Homo sapiens: one gene and its partner. The protein of the gene in region 1 purifies or fractionates together with the protein of each later gene. This does not show direct contact. Each region holds a gene or a part of one and is shown in the gene's direction. Other genes may lie near its edges.

Evidence for each region.
Region 2: the proteins of SDHA (region 1) and SLC27A2 fractionate together in Homo sapiens (co-fractionation; 2 studies listed by BioGRID). This does not show direct contact.

The regions. Positions count from the first base shown.
Region 1 is NC_000005.10:221,294-228,319, forward strand, and holds part of SDHA (succinate dehydrogenase [ubiquinone] flavoprotein subunit, mitochondrial), read left to right. Parts: intron 1-2,188; coding exon 2,189-2,275; intron 2,276-3,066; coding exon 3,067-3,228; intron 3,229-4,125; coding exon 4,126-4,269; intron 4,270-4,589; coding exon 4,590-4,754; intron 4,755-6,891; coding exon 6,892-7,026. UniProt on the Homo sapiens protein: Flavoprotein (FP) subunit of succinate dehydrogenase (SDH) that is involved in complex II of the mitochondrial electron transport chain and is responsible for transferring electrons from succinate to ubiquinone (coenzyme Q).
Region 2 is NC_000015.10:50,185,187-50,192,212, forward strand, and holds part of SLC27A2 (long-chain fatty acid transport protein 2), read left to right. Parts: intron 1-7,026. UniProt on the Homo sapiens protein: Mediates the import of long-chain fatty acids (LCFA) into the cell by facilitating their transport across cell membranes, playing an important role in hepatic fatty acid uptake.

The DNA.
Region 1 (7,026 bases):
GCGGATATGCAGGTGCATTTTTATCAGTTTTAGACTTCTTGCCTAGAGAGGGGATTTAGTTCACTTAAACTACCCTGCTTCCGCTTCTTCCTGATACAGTCGTGCGTTTTTAGGTTCTTCGTTGGCTGCTTTTGTGATTGTGTAGGTTGTACATGCAGATTAGTTTCTTGCTCGTGATTTATAGGTGCGTTGTATTAGATGAGGACCCCTTACTTTGCTAGATTTCGGATATGAATGTCTCTGCACTTCTTACTTTTCCCCTCCACCTCCTAATTCAGTCATCTGAAATTCTGTATTGTTAAGCAAGGTCTAAGTATTCCTTTTAGTTATATGTTCCCCATTTTTTTTCTTGAGGAAATGTTTGATAGTTTCTCCTAAAAAAATTAACAATTGGCACAAAAGACTAGTTTTGTGTCAAAACTAGTTTTGAGTTTTATCTAAAGACTGAAATTGGCTTAAAGTTGGGCTTTCCAAATTCAAAAATCTGCCCCAGATTAGATTTAGATTGAGAGGGTTAGTGTCCTTTTCGCCAGGGGGATGGCGTGATAATTTGTTCAAGATTGTGTTATAGTAGCTGCCCCTTTTAAGCCAGCTCTGTGTGTGTGTGGTGGGGGGTGGGCAGTGGGTCTTCCACATCAACATCCTAGAAAGAACGAATAAACATTGAGTGATCTCACTGTTTCTACTTACATTTGGTATAATATACTGTTCTTACTGGTGCTATTACTATGTTAATAGGGCACTTTACAACATTTTCAAGAACATTTGTATTAAAATTATTTCAAAGACTTCTTTCTTAAAATATGATTTTACCATGCAAAAATTTTACTAAGGTAGAAGAATATTTGTTCTTTCTCATTCATTTTCTGAAAAAAGAAAAAAGCTGAATTAGCTTATACCAATAAAAACAGAGACTAGAAATTGGAGAAATGAAGAATAATTTTTTATCCCACATAATAAGTAATTTCTGAATTGCAAGTATTTCTAAATACTTGAAGACATTCCTCACATCCCCTCTTCTGATTGCATTTATTTCCTAAAGCTTTTTTTTCTTTTCTTTTTTTTTTTTTTGGAGACGTTGTCTCTCTCTGTTGCCGAGGCCGGAGTGCAGTGGCACAGTCTAGGCTCACTGCAGCCTCTGCCTTCTGGGTTCAAGCGATTCTCCTGCCTCAGCCTCCCAAGTAGCTGGGATTACAGGTGCCCGCCACGACGCCCAGCTAATTGTTAGTAGAGATGGGGTTTTGCCATGTTGGCCAGACTGGTCTTGAACTCCTGACTTCAGGTGATCCACCCACCTTGGCCTCCCCAAATGCTGGGATTACAGGCATGAGCCACCGTGCCCAGCCCCTAAAACTATTCTTGATGATATTTCTGAGACTATTCAGTGGTCTTCTCAAATGTAGCCAGCAGAATGGAAAACGTATCCCCTAAATGGCTGGCCAACCTTAGCATATGGACAGTGTCACCTCTCTCACACAGAGCCACTAAAAACTAAACACCAAAACCAGTTTTCTTGGGTAAAGTTTTCTAAGATGGAAAATTTAAGCAGCAAGATGTGTCAAGTTGTAGATGTTGGCCAGGAAAAAGCCAGCAGCAGCCAGGCAGGGGAGAGTGTGCATCCGACATCCTCCTGTGTGATGAAGGGATGACACCTCGTCCCTCTAGGCTGTCAGCTTTTACTGTTCCAGGATACAGATCTCCTGATTCAATGTTGAGTGCCTTTTGAACTGACCACAAGCCCTCCTGGACGATTGGAACTGTAATGTGGAAAGGGCTATGATGGAGCCAGTTAAAATGCTTCATTACTTGCAAAATACCACATACAGTAATACAATATACACGTCTTTCCCCTTCTCCACTAAGTAGCATACATTAAGACTTCACAGAGGAAGTGTGCCTTTTTCATTTCGTATCTGAGTCAGTGAGTATCCTGTTTGGAAACAAGCTTCATCCTGGTTTTCTAGAGTGCCAAGTCAGGGTGGAAACGAGGACCTGGGGGCTCAGTCCTTCCTTGCCCCTTGGGCTGCCTTCAGGGTTAAGTAGAGGGTCCCAGCTGAGCTCTCTGGATGCACAGGAGCACCTGGGTACATAAGAAGGTGAACAGTTTGCAAGGGGAAATTACTATCCCCCACAGCATTTGTTCCTTCAGGACACTAACCCTCTGGATCTGTGTCTTCTGTGTCTCCAGTGGCCAACAGTGTTGCAAACAGGAACCCGAGGTTTTCACTTCACTGTTGATGGGAACAAGAGGGCATCTGCTAAAGTTTCAGATTCCGTAAGTTCATGCTTTTTGTTCCATTATAAATGATTTTTTTGGCTTAGGGGGTAAGGATCTATACCAGTTTGTTTTCATATGAGTCATAGACATAAGGGAAAAATTTCTCATAGGTATCCAATGCATGCTGAAATTATTTTCAGTGTAATAATACTTAATTGCAAGTACAAATATAAACATAGATGTTTACATTTTTACTTGTATCTGTTATGTATCTATAAACTAGATTTAAATTTAGATCAAGTAAAGCAATAAATTAAAATAAAATGAACAGTGTCTGCTGTGATAGATGATAAAATTCCTACTGAAAATAGGACGGTGGGGCCAGTGAACAGTATCTGCTGTGATAGATGATAAAATCCTACTGAAAATAGGATGGTGGGGCCCCTCGGGTGTGGGTTGCTTTGTATTTAGTGAGCCTATCTCTGTTGAAAAACTGAAACTTGCTGAGAAGTTGTTTTCTTATAAGCCCACAATAGCGACTGAATACTCCTTGGCACCTTCTCAGGCATAAGCATAGGCACGGCCCTGAAGTAGAGTTGTGGTCCTCAGTCTGACCCCATGGGATAGACCCTCTACCATTCGTAGAATCTGATTGTCAGTCCCTTCTCCAGGTGCGAATGTGCCCACCTCTCCCCGAACTGTTCAGGGCTCAGCCCCAGGACAGGATGGAGGCCCTGTGTGCCCAGCAGTTGCTCCTTTTATCTTTGTCAAGCTCTTTCACTGTCACAAGATTCTTCATGTTTGGCATAGTGGAACATGTGATTGACAGGTGAATTTTTCTTTTCCAGATTTCTGCTCAGTATCCAGTAGTGGATCATGAATTTGATGCAGTGGTGGTAGGCGCTGGAGGGGCAGGCTTGCGAGCTGCATTTGGCCTTTCTGAGGCAGGGTTTAATACAGCATGTGTTACCAAGCTGTTTCCTACCAGGTCACACACTGTTGCAGCACAGGTAAGAGAAAGGTGCCCCACTGTGCTCCCACTCCGTGCAGGTCCCGCGCAGCCTCGCACTTTCTACCTGGGCAGCCCCCTGCCTCCTCCCCCTGCTCCAGCCACATGGCCTCTTGCTGTGCCTTACTCAGCTCACCCTCTCAGGGGTCTCTCCCTGGAGCCTCTTCCCTGGGGACTTTGAAGGGCGGGAGACTTGTTGTCACTCCTAATTCAGACTCCAGTCACACTTGGGTTTTCTCTGACCATCTTGCCTACTACCTTCCCCACCTACCCCCGCCACCCCAACACCTTAAGAAAAGGAGATCACCTAAAGAGGAGGAATCAGAATTTAGGTTGGGGAAGAAAAGGGCAAGGGTTTCATTTGTCCCTGTGCTTCTGTCTTCTGGGACTCTCTGAGGGGTAAGACAGTGGTGGGCACACACAGCCAAAGGAAGCTGGGGTACAGGGGAGTGCGACTCTGAGTGTGGAGTTTATTACTTGGCAGGAAGCACTTCTAGTCTTTAACACATGCCCGTAAATGCCATTGGGAAGATTTGTTAATAAAATTATCTGGAAAGATTTGTTGAGTACCTTTTCTGTGCCAGATAGGTTAGGTTATAAGCATATTACAGGTAGCCTTTCACTCACTGCTCCAGTCAGCCCTTCCTGGAGTTCCCTGTGTCTCCACCACGCAGATGAGGAGACTGAGGCTAAGGATGGAATCACTGGGCGAGTCGGGGAGGGGTTGTGATCTGGAATCTGTCGGGTCTCGCTGCTCCTCTGCTGAGGTCAGCCCTCACTGGGAGTCACTGTGTGAGTAGTTGGCTTTCTCTGAATCCCCCCAGCGGGTGGATTTGGGCCTGGAAGACAAAGTTGGCGCTCCTGTTTGTGGCTTGTAAGGAGTGGTTGGTGTTTCCAGGGAGGAATCAATGCTGCTCTGGGGAACATGGAGGAGGACAACTGGAGGTGGCATTTCTACGACACCGTGAAGGGCTCCGACTGGCTGGGGGACCAGGATGCCATCCACTACATGACGGAGCAGGCCCCCGCCGCCGTGGTCGAGGTGATGGGCGGGAGGCTCTGGGTGTTCTCGTGGTCTGTTTCTAGTACAAAAGAATCCTGGAAAAAAATGTAAGCAATTGAGGCGGATGTGGCAGCCAAAAGAATGGTGATGAGCAAAGTTCACAAGAAGAGTCTTTTTCCGTTATGAACTATGCATTATATGTAACAAGAAAACTTCTCTTTGATGAAGTGTTGACATTTTCATAAAATAGGTTACTTTGGGTTTGCAGATTTGTGTTAAACTTGTTTAGTGTAGATTAGCTGCGAATATCTTGACTCCTTTAAGGTGTTAAGGTTTTTGTTTGTTTTTATCTTTCACAGCTAGAAAATTATGGCATGCCGTTTAGCAGAACTGAAGATGGGAAGATTTATCAGCGTGCATTTGGTGGACAGAGCCTCAAGTTTGGAAAGGGCGGGCAGGCCCATCGGTGCTGCTGTGTGGCTGATCGGACTGGCCACTCGCTATTGCACACCTTATATGGAAGGGTAAGGCCGCCCCCGTCCACCTGAGACAGGACACGTAGTGCTGGGGCTTATGGTGACAGTGGGGAATGGGTTAGCGTGCCCAGTGAGTCAGCCAGAGATTACGTAAAAAGCAACAGAGAACAGCAGCGTGGGGCGCATGCAGCGACTGTGGATGTGACAGGACCAGACGTGTGCCTTGAGGAGCTGTCCCTAAGGCAGTGTGTGACTTCTTGCATCTATGTCAGAAAGTTGAATCGATAATCTTACATACCAGGTTTTAACTTGGGATATGTGACACTCAACATACAAGAGCAGAGCAAGCAGGCCAGGCACAGTGGCTCAGGTCTGTAATCCCAGCACTTTAGGAGGCCAAGGCAGGAGGATCACTTGAGACCAGAAGTTTGAGACCAGCCTGGACAACATAGCAAGACCCTGTCTCTACAAAAAGTTTAAAAATTAGCTGGGCATGGTGGTACATGCTTGTAATCCCAGTTACTCAGGAGGCTGAGGCTCCTGGATCACTTGAGACCAGGAGGTTGAGGCTACAGTGAGCCATGTTCGTACCACTGCACTCCAGCCTGGGCAACAGGAGACCCTGTCTCAAAAAAAGAGAAAGAACAGGCTGGGTGCGGTGGCTCACGCCTGTAATCCCAGCACTTTGTGAGGCCTAGGCGGGCAGATCACAAGGTCAGGAGTTTGAGGCCATCTTGCCTAACACTGTGAAACCCCGTCTCTACTAAAAATACAAAAAAATTAGCCAGGCATGGTGGCAGGCACCTGTAGTCCCAGCTGCTTGGGAGGCTGAGGCAGGAGAATGGCGTGAACCCAGGAGGCGGAACTTGCAGTGAGCCGAGATCGCACCCCTGCACTCCAGCCTGGGCAACAGAATGAGACTCCATCTCAAAAAAAAAAAAAAAAAAAGAACAAGTATTTTAAGTCTCTTTTACCACCTCTGAGTTCCTGAATGGATTGGTTTTGTTTGTTTTGTTTTGTTTTGTTTTTGAGACGGAGTCTCACTCTGTCACCCAGGCTGGAGTGCAGTAGCACAATCTCAGCTCACTGCTACTTCCACCTCCTGGATTCAAGTGATTCTCCTGCCTCAGCCTCCCGAGTAGCTGGGACTACAGGCGCACGCCACCATGCCTGGCTAATTTTTTGTATTTTAGTAGAGACAGGGTTTCCCATGTTGCCCAGGCTGGTCCCGAACTCCTGAGCTCAGGCAGTCCACCTGCCTTGGCCTCCGAAAGTGCTGGGATTGCAGGCGTGAGCCACCGCACCCGGCCATGGATTGTTTTAATATTAACTGTTAACACTGAAGAAAGACTTGAGGTGACAATAGTTACTGGGTAATCAGAGTCAACTTTGGCATGGCCAAATAATATTCTGAACGGTATTGATTCAGAGTAATCAATATTCTGAACTTTGTTGTTTTCTGATGCATGGGGACGGATCGTTAATTTGCAGGTTGTTAGAACACCAGTGACTTCTCTGTGGCTGAGTGCATCGACAAGTGTGTGGTGGGAGGAGACCGCGGCTCCATCTGGAGCAGGAGCTGTCATGTGGGGAGCTGGCCCAGGCTTACAAGAGCGACTTGTGCTGGCTGAGGGAACGGCAGGTCCAGGCGGGCAGCGCTGTCCGGCGCCTACCTTTCTGCGGTGCCGGAATCTGCTCGTCTGCAACCGTCCGCTTTGGTAGCTGCCAGCCACATGGGGCTGTTGCTAATGTGGCAGGTGTAGCTGAAGAGCTGAATGTTTTGACTTATTTTAATTAATTAAGTGGTTATGTGTTGCCAGTAGCTCCCATCTGGGCTGTGACTGCATGGTCTGCGGACCTCACTCTGGCACCAGACTCCGAGTGGAGCTGCATGCGGCCACCGGACAGTGTGGAGTGCCTCTTCGGGTTGTGTAGAAGTAGGAAATGTGTCACCAAAATAGGAGCTGTTGCTGCTGCGTTCTCTAGCACACCTGCCTTGTCTGTACTGCTCGGCGTGGAATGCCTCTCGGGCTCTGACAGTGTCACTGACACTGTTGCTGATCTCCTTGGATTTACCTGGTCCATTTGGATCAAGTTCTTTCACCTATTCACATGAGCAGATACCACCTTAAAACCTTAAAGTTTGGCTTAACACTTCTTGCCCTTTTTTTTTCCTTTCTTTTAGTCTCTGCGATATGATACCAGCTATTTTGTGGAGTATTTTGCCTTGGATCTCCTGATGGAGAATGGGGAGTGCCGTGGTGTCATCGCACTGTGCATAGAGGACGGGTCCATCCATCGCATAAGAGCAAAGAACACT
Region 2 (7,026 bases), on another chromosome or scaffold:
ACCAGATACCCTCTTCCCACCCAGCTAACAGTTGTCTGCCATAGAGCTATGTGTTTACATAGAGAATATATGGGAATTTCTATATTAAACTCAAACGTGAACCAGACTTTACAGTGGACCTAAGGCACTCTCTGGACCGTCAACTGACCTCTGAGGGAGGCCACATATTTGAAAAAAAATCAGTTTTTCCAAATCACTGAGATACCTTTGCACATGAAGCAAAATTACAGTCTGTCACAGAGTTGCATGTTTACTAAACATGCCCATGGGAAAATATGTTGAATGGACTGATTCTTAGAATTCTTTGGTGTTGGAAGGGACCTTAGAGATATTCTAACCCTATAATCCTGTAAGTTTAATGAATGTGTTATACTTTAAAAAAAAAAGTTTACAGAAGAAACTTTAATAAGCCCAAGAATCACCTAGGAAGCTTACTTTTTTTTTTTTTTTTTTTTTTTTTTGAGACGGAATCTCGCTCTTTCGCCCAGGCCAGGCTGCTGTGGCGTGATCTCGGCTCACTGCAAGCTCCACCTCCCTGGTTCACGCCATTCTCCTGCCTCAGCTTCCTGAATAGCTGGGACTACAGGCACCCGCCACCACGCCCGGATAATTTTTTGTATTTTTAGTAGGGGCAGGGTTTCACCGTGTTAGCCAGGATGGTCTTGATCTCCTGACCTCGTGATCTGCCGGCCTTGGCCTCCCAAAGTGCTGGGATTACAGGCGTGAGCCACCACGCCTGGCCGGAAGCTTACTTTTAAAAACATTCTGAGGCTGGACACTATGGCTCACTCCTGTAATCCTAGCACTTTGGGAAGTGGAGGAGGGAGGATCACTTGAGCCCAGAAGTTCGAGACTAGCCTGGGCAACATGATGAAACCCCATCTCTACAAAAAAAAAAAATACAAAAATTAACTGGGCATGATGGTGAGCACCTGTGGTCCCAGTTACTGGGGAGGCTGAGGTGAAAGGATTGCTTGAGCCCGGGAGGTTGAGGCTGCACTGAGCTCTGACTGTGCCACTACACTCCGGCCTGGGTGATAGAGTGAGACCCTGTCTCAAAACAAAAAAATAAAATTTCTGAGATCATCCCCAAAAATGCTGATTCAGTAAGACTATGTTGGGGCCCAGGAATGTGTATTTTTATAAGAAACCCCACCGCCAACCCTAGGTGATTTTGAAACAAATGGTCTGAGGACTAGGCTTTGAGAAACAGTCTAGTTTCCCATTGTTTTTCATTGTTGTTTGTTTGTTTGTTTGTTTGTTTGTTTTTGAGACAGTCTCGCTCTGTTGCCCAGGCTGGAGGTGCCGTGGCGCGATCTCGACTCACGGCAACCTCCGCCTCCCAGGTTCAAGCCATTCTCCTACCTCAGCCCCTCAAGTAGCTGGGACTACAGATGCCCACCACCATGCCCAGCTAATTTTTGTTATTATCAGTAGAGATGGGGTTTCACCATGTTGGCCAGGATGATCTCCATCTCTTGACCTCGTGATCCACCTGCCTCGTCCTCCCAAAGTGCTGGGATTAGAGGCGTGAGCCACTGCTACTGGCCTTCTCATTGTCTTATAGCTGTATAAACAAAGGCCTAGAGGGATGATATGAATTGCCCATGATCAAGTGGATAGTTAGGAACAGAAAGGTAGAGATAGAACCCAAATATTTTTTTCTCACTTACGAGGCACTGTTTATTCTATCACACCATCTTGAACATGATACATAAATGTCAGTTTGATTCCATATTTTGAGTTTCAGCCCAGGGCTTGTGGACTAGTAAGAGCTCTTGAGCTCCATCTGTCAGTCAAATTCTGCAGTATATGTAAAGGACCAGCACAGAGGCATTTATCATGAGGATTGATCCAGTTGTTATGAATTTGGGGGTTTCTTTATAACACTTAACAGGACTCAACCCTATCAGGAATTTCAGTACTCAATTACTCTTTTCAATTTTACTATAGTTACAGAAAGTCAAGACTCATAAACACTTCCCTGAATCAAGCAGCAGCACTGTTTCCCAGAGAATATGACTTTCTCTCTGTTGTACATTTCAGGATCGTTCTCCAGGGCAGGGTATGATCTAGGTAATCACATGGGAAAATTGTCTCCAAGGATAAGAACCTGTATCAATGTTGTAACTAATAAAAGCCACATGGCTGGGCCAGTAGTTTTTCACCCAACTTTCCAAATACAGAATATGGGTAAAACAGTAAAACATATTTTATTTCACACAATATGGGATATTTTATAAAAACCTACAAAAGAGGCCTGAAATTGTACATTTGTTCCATTTCCATTTATCCTAGCATCAAGACCATCAATAAACTAGCTCTTCCACTGGGTAGATAACCCAGGTCTCCTGAGGGTCCCTTCATCAGCTCACTGGCAGGGTATACACTGCCTAACTCAACACAGCCATGCGAGGCTCCCACAGTGTAGGCACTACTCTTATGCAAGGCTTTAGTAACAGTTAAAGATACTCTCTGTTGCAAAACTGAGTCCCAGGTAAGTTATAAAACGTTCCAGATTACCTTTGACCTGGTTTTGCAAGGTTGCAGAAAACAAAATTTGACCTCCTTTAAACAATGTGATAAAGGAAAAATGCTTACAATAGCTTTCAAAAATATTGCATCATTAAAAGCTATAAGACTGAAGAACTTCATTACAAAACAAGTGTTGGGACCAAGGATAACCCTTGTCATCCAAACTTTTGAGATTAGATTGAGAAAAACTGATGGTACAACAATTTGATTTTCAAAGCAAGAAACATTTAGAGGGAGGAGAGGCCACCAAAAAAAAAAAAAAAAGGAGAGAGAGTCCCAACAAGGTACAAGCTAGTTTTCTCTGTGCCATGATGGGATGGAGAAATAAGATGAATTAGTTCAAGGATCTTACAGTCCAGTAAAAGAACTAAACCGCATGCACAAATGATTGTGACACCCAGTAGAATGTGCTCAGTGTGCTGGGAGGGCTACAAGTGCTGCAGGAAAACAAGCAGAGGTCAAGAGAAGGCTTTTTGGGGCACTGACTATTGAGCTGAACAAATGCAGTGGGGGAGGGGGCATTCCAGGCAAAAGGAGCACCAGAGGCAGTTCTGATCAGGTGCTTAAAACAGTGAGATGCTTCATTAAAGGATATTGCGATGTAAGAACAATGGCAGTCTGGACCTAATAATAGTCATTTTTTTAAGCTGTTTCCTGAAGGGACAGGAAATGGAAAAAATAGGGACTCAGAGAGTCCAAAGAATGGCCAACAGCAGTGGCCTCACTTCCACAGAAGGAAATATTTAATTTTCTAATGCCAACTTTAGTCCAGAATCAAGGCACAGAAATAATCTAATCTACACTCTTCCCAACTCTTTGGACTGCCCAAGGAGTAACTTAAATGAGTTGTTTCAATGCACTTTGTCTCAAAGGCTTAGAATTCTCTCATATATCTTTGAATAATTCCCTAGTAATGTCTAGCACATAGTAGGCAGGCAGTCAATAAGTGTCTGTTGGGCAGGGCACGGTGGCTCATGCCTGTAATCCCAACACTTTGGGAGGCCAAGATGGGCAGATCACCTGAGTTCAGGAGTTGGAGACCAGCCTGGCCAACATGGCGAAACCCTGTCTCTATTAAAAATACAAAAATTAGTCGGGCATGGTGGCGGGCATCCGTAATCCCAGCTACTCCGGAGGCTGAGGCACAAGAATCACTTGAACCTGGGAGGTGGAGGTTGCAGTGAGCCAAGATCACACTACTGCATTCCAGCCGGGATGACAGAGTGAGACTGTCTAGATAGGTAGATAGATAGATAGATAAATAGATAGATAGATAGATAGATAGATAGATAGATAGATAGATAGATGCATACAAACATACATACATACATACATACATAATGGATAGATAATGTCTGTTGAATTAATGGGTTCCATTATTCTGGTTGATTGTGACAGGCTTTCTCTCCTGAAGCTTAAGGACCACTGGGTTGGGCATGAGGGCCTGAAAAATGATGTAACAAAATCAGATGTGAAAAAATCCATTTAAACTCAATCTACCCCAGGCCCAGCCTTACCCTACCACAGGCTTACTTACCTCTCAAAGGTCCTCCTAATCAATGACTCTGTCCAGCTCTCTGGCAGTACATGGTAGGACAGCGGTGCTCTCCTTGGGTCTCAGTGCAGCAAGTAAGCAGGTGGTGAGCACAGGATGGGCTGGAAAGGACCTGTGAGTAGGGTGGTGGAGGACCCTGTACAAGGACAGAAACCCAGACACCAAATGATTAATATATCCAAGGGCTGGGATTCCCAGCCTAGTAGCCCAAGGAAAGATAGCTTAAAGATATTCTCTAAGATTTTTCTTCTCTCCCTGCTCTTAACTAAAGCTTGCAAAGGAGGTGATTGTACATCTCCATCCAAGAACAAAACTAGCACTTTGCTGGCATATATGGGAATGCACTTTATTTTCTTCAGAAACAGGGACTGAAGAGGTAAAAACAAACTCTGAATCAGGTGTTGTTATTGAATCTGAAAGAGAAGGATAGAGTTCAGATTATTCTATATAATAGGTGCTAGTATTTGAAAAGGACCTTCCCACAGCCTCTGAGAAAAGGGAAGTAGATCATTGGTAGAAAGATGACATGGTTGCTTACAGATATCAAATGCTAACAATTATGTAAGGCCTTATGTGACCTGGTAACTCATGATAAGGAATTACCTTTGATTCCAGGGCTATTTAGAAAGCAAGAGTTCATATAAGCAAGAACTTTAACTTGGAGAAATAAAAATTAACATCAAGGAGATTACTACTTAATTACCTAAATGTAAAATGAGTATGTATTTCCTTGTTAAATTTTTGCTTACTCCTGGTGGAACTTAAACATTTTTATGACCTCCGGGTGATTTGTGTGGGGAAGAAGGAGGAGCACATGCATGTCTCTCTCTCTATATATAGTATTATAATGTGCATCATCTTGCTGTACAAAATACTGTCATTCCAAACTGCCAATGATTGAGATGCAAAATTACAGTTACAAATGGCATTTTAGGAACTATTTTTAGGTTGTCTTCAAGGACTATGTTATTAATAGCACCAGTTTGCATTTCAGTTGCTTTTCTGAATGAAGAAAAGAGATAAATCTTCAAGCTTGACTTGCTCATCAACCAACCATTTCATGATCAGAGTACATTTCCTTTCACTACCTTCCTTTTGGACCTTACCTTCTTGGTAAATATTTCTGGGGTGTTTTGTTTAATCCAGTCAGTTACTCATTCACTGAGGCAGTCTAGTAGCAGAACAAGCTACTAGACTGAATGTTTTCCTATTGGAAAGCTGCAGGTTTAGCCTGAGCACCTGACACCTTAGTAATGAAGATTGATTCAGCTCACCACCTACCCAATCTCTCTGCCTTCTAGCAATGGACTTGTTTATTCAGAAAATTCTTCCTTTTTCCTTAAAAAAAAAAAAAAAGGCAGGGGCAGACTTAATATGCTACCTTAATTTTTTAAAATTTTCTTTGAACAGACTTTAAAGGGGATGGGGGAGTAGTGTTGTAATCACTTGATTTTTCAACACCCAAGTGTGTGCTCTTTCTCTGTGGGTTTATTTCAGTCTACAACTTAAAACTAGACTGATGAAGAACCGACTGATGGAGCTGCTCTACACCCTTCAGGCAACTTTCTGTGACCACTGTTTCTCATACTCAAACTTTTAATAAAGCTTGAGGTTTTGCTCTTCAAGAAAAGATCATCCATGTTACTCATTAAATGCAGATCCACATGATTGAACAAGCACTGAGCAGAAGGCCAAGCAGCCAGCCTCTTCCAAGAAATAAGGCACTTTGCTAGAACTTAATCTGAATGGCTCATACAAGGAGGTGGGAACCTCAGAAGCCCAGAATGATTCTTTTCATTTTGCATGTGACCCTCCATACACTGACTTGGTGAGCCTCTTCTCATTTGTAGAAATAAGATTACTGGTATCTATATCACAGAGTTGTTATGAAAATTATGTGAAGTGATGTATGTAAAACTATACCAACAGTTCTATGCAAATGAAAATTTTAAATGTTTGTTATTAGTAAAGAGAGAGGTGGGTGCATGCTCTGATGTGCCACCCAGATCCCTGCTTTAGGACTGACGGACTCACTCTTCAGCTGCTGGGAGCTCTCAGCTGAGACCTCTCCCAGGACTTCTCCTTGGTTGAAGAGAGACACTTTGCCCAAGGTTAAGCACCACCACCCCAGCCTGAGTCCATTGGACTGGTCAATGGGCAGGTGTGAAGGCACAGCCTACCTCCCTTAATTTAGGAGGTAACTCTGAAGGGCATCCCAGGTCCAGAGTCCCCTTAGGATTAGAGGATCTGCTGAGGGAGACTTCTGTTGTGACTGCATTACAGTTCAATGTCTCCCTCTATCCAGTCTGCTTCCCTTGCAGCCTCACAGGTCCCATTCCCAAGAGCACTCCTGCATGCACATCTCGGAGTCTCAGAGAACCCAACCTTGACAAATAGAATTATAGGAGCTTACATGTTCTGATTGATAGATGAGCAGACTTTACAATAAAAATTATAAAAGGTAGATAGATATTTTATGCTTGCATTAGAAAATATGTAGGCCAACCAGGCAGTGGCTCATGCCTGTAATCCCAACACTTTGGGAGGCCAAGGTGGGCGGATCACTTGAGGTTGGGAGTTCAAGACCAGCCTGGCCAAATTGGTGAAACCCCATCTCTACTAAAAATACAAACATTAGCCGGGCATGGTGACAGCCGCCTGTAATCCCAGCTACTCGGGAGGCTGAGGCAGGAGAGCCGCTTGAACCCAGGAGGCAGAGATTGCAGTGAGTTGAGATCACGCCATTGCACTCCAGCCTGGATGACAGAGTGAGACTCCATCTCAAAAAAAAAAAAAAGAAAAAAGAAAATATGTAGGCCCAAACATATCTACAAAAGACTCAAGAAAATAAAAGACATTAAATATCAACTAGATAGTTGACAGGTAGATTCACATCCAGAATTTCCTTTCAAATTTCTTTTTTCTTTCTACATCTT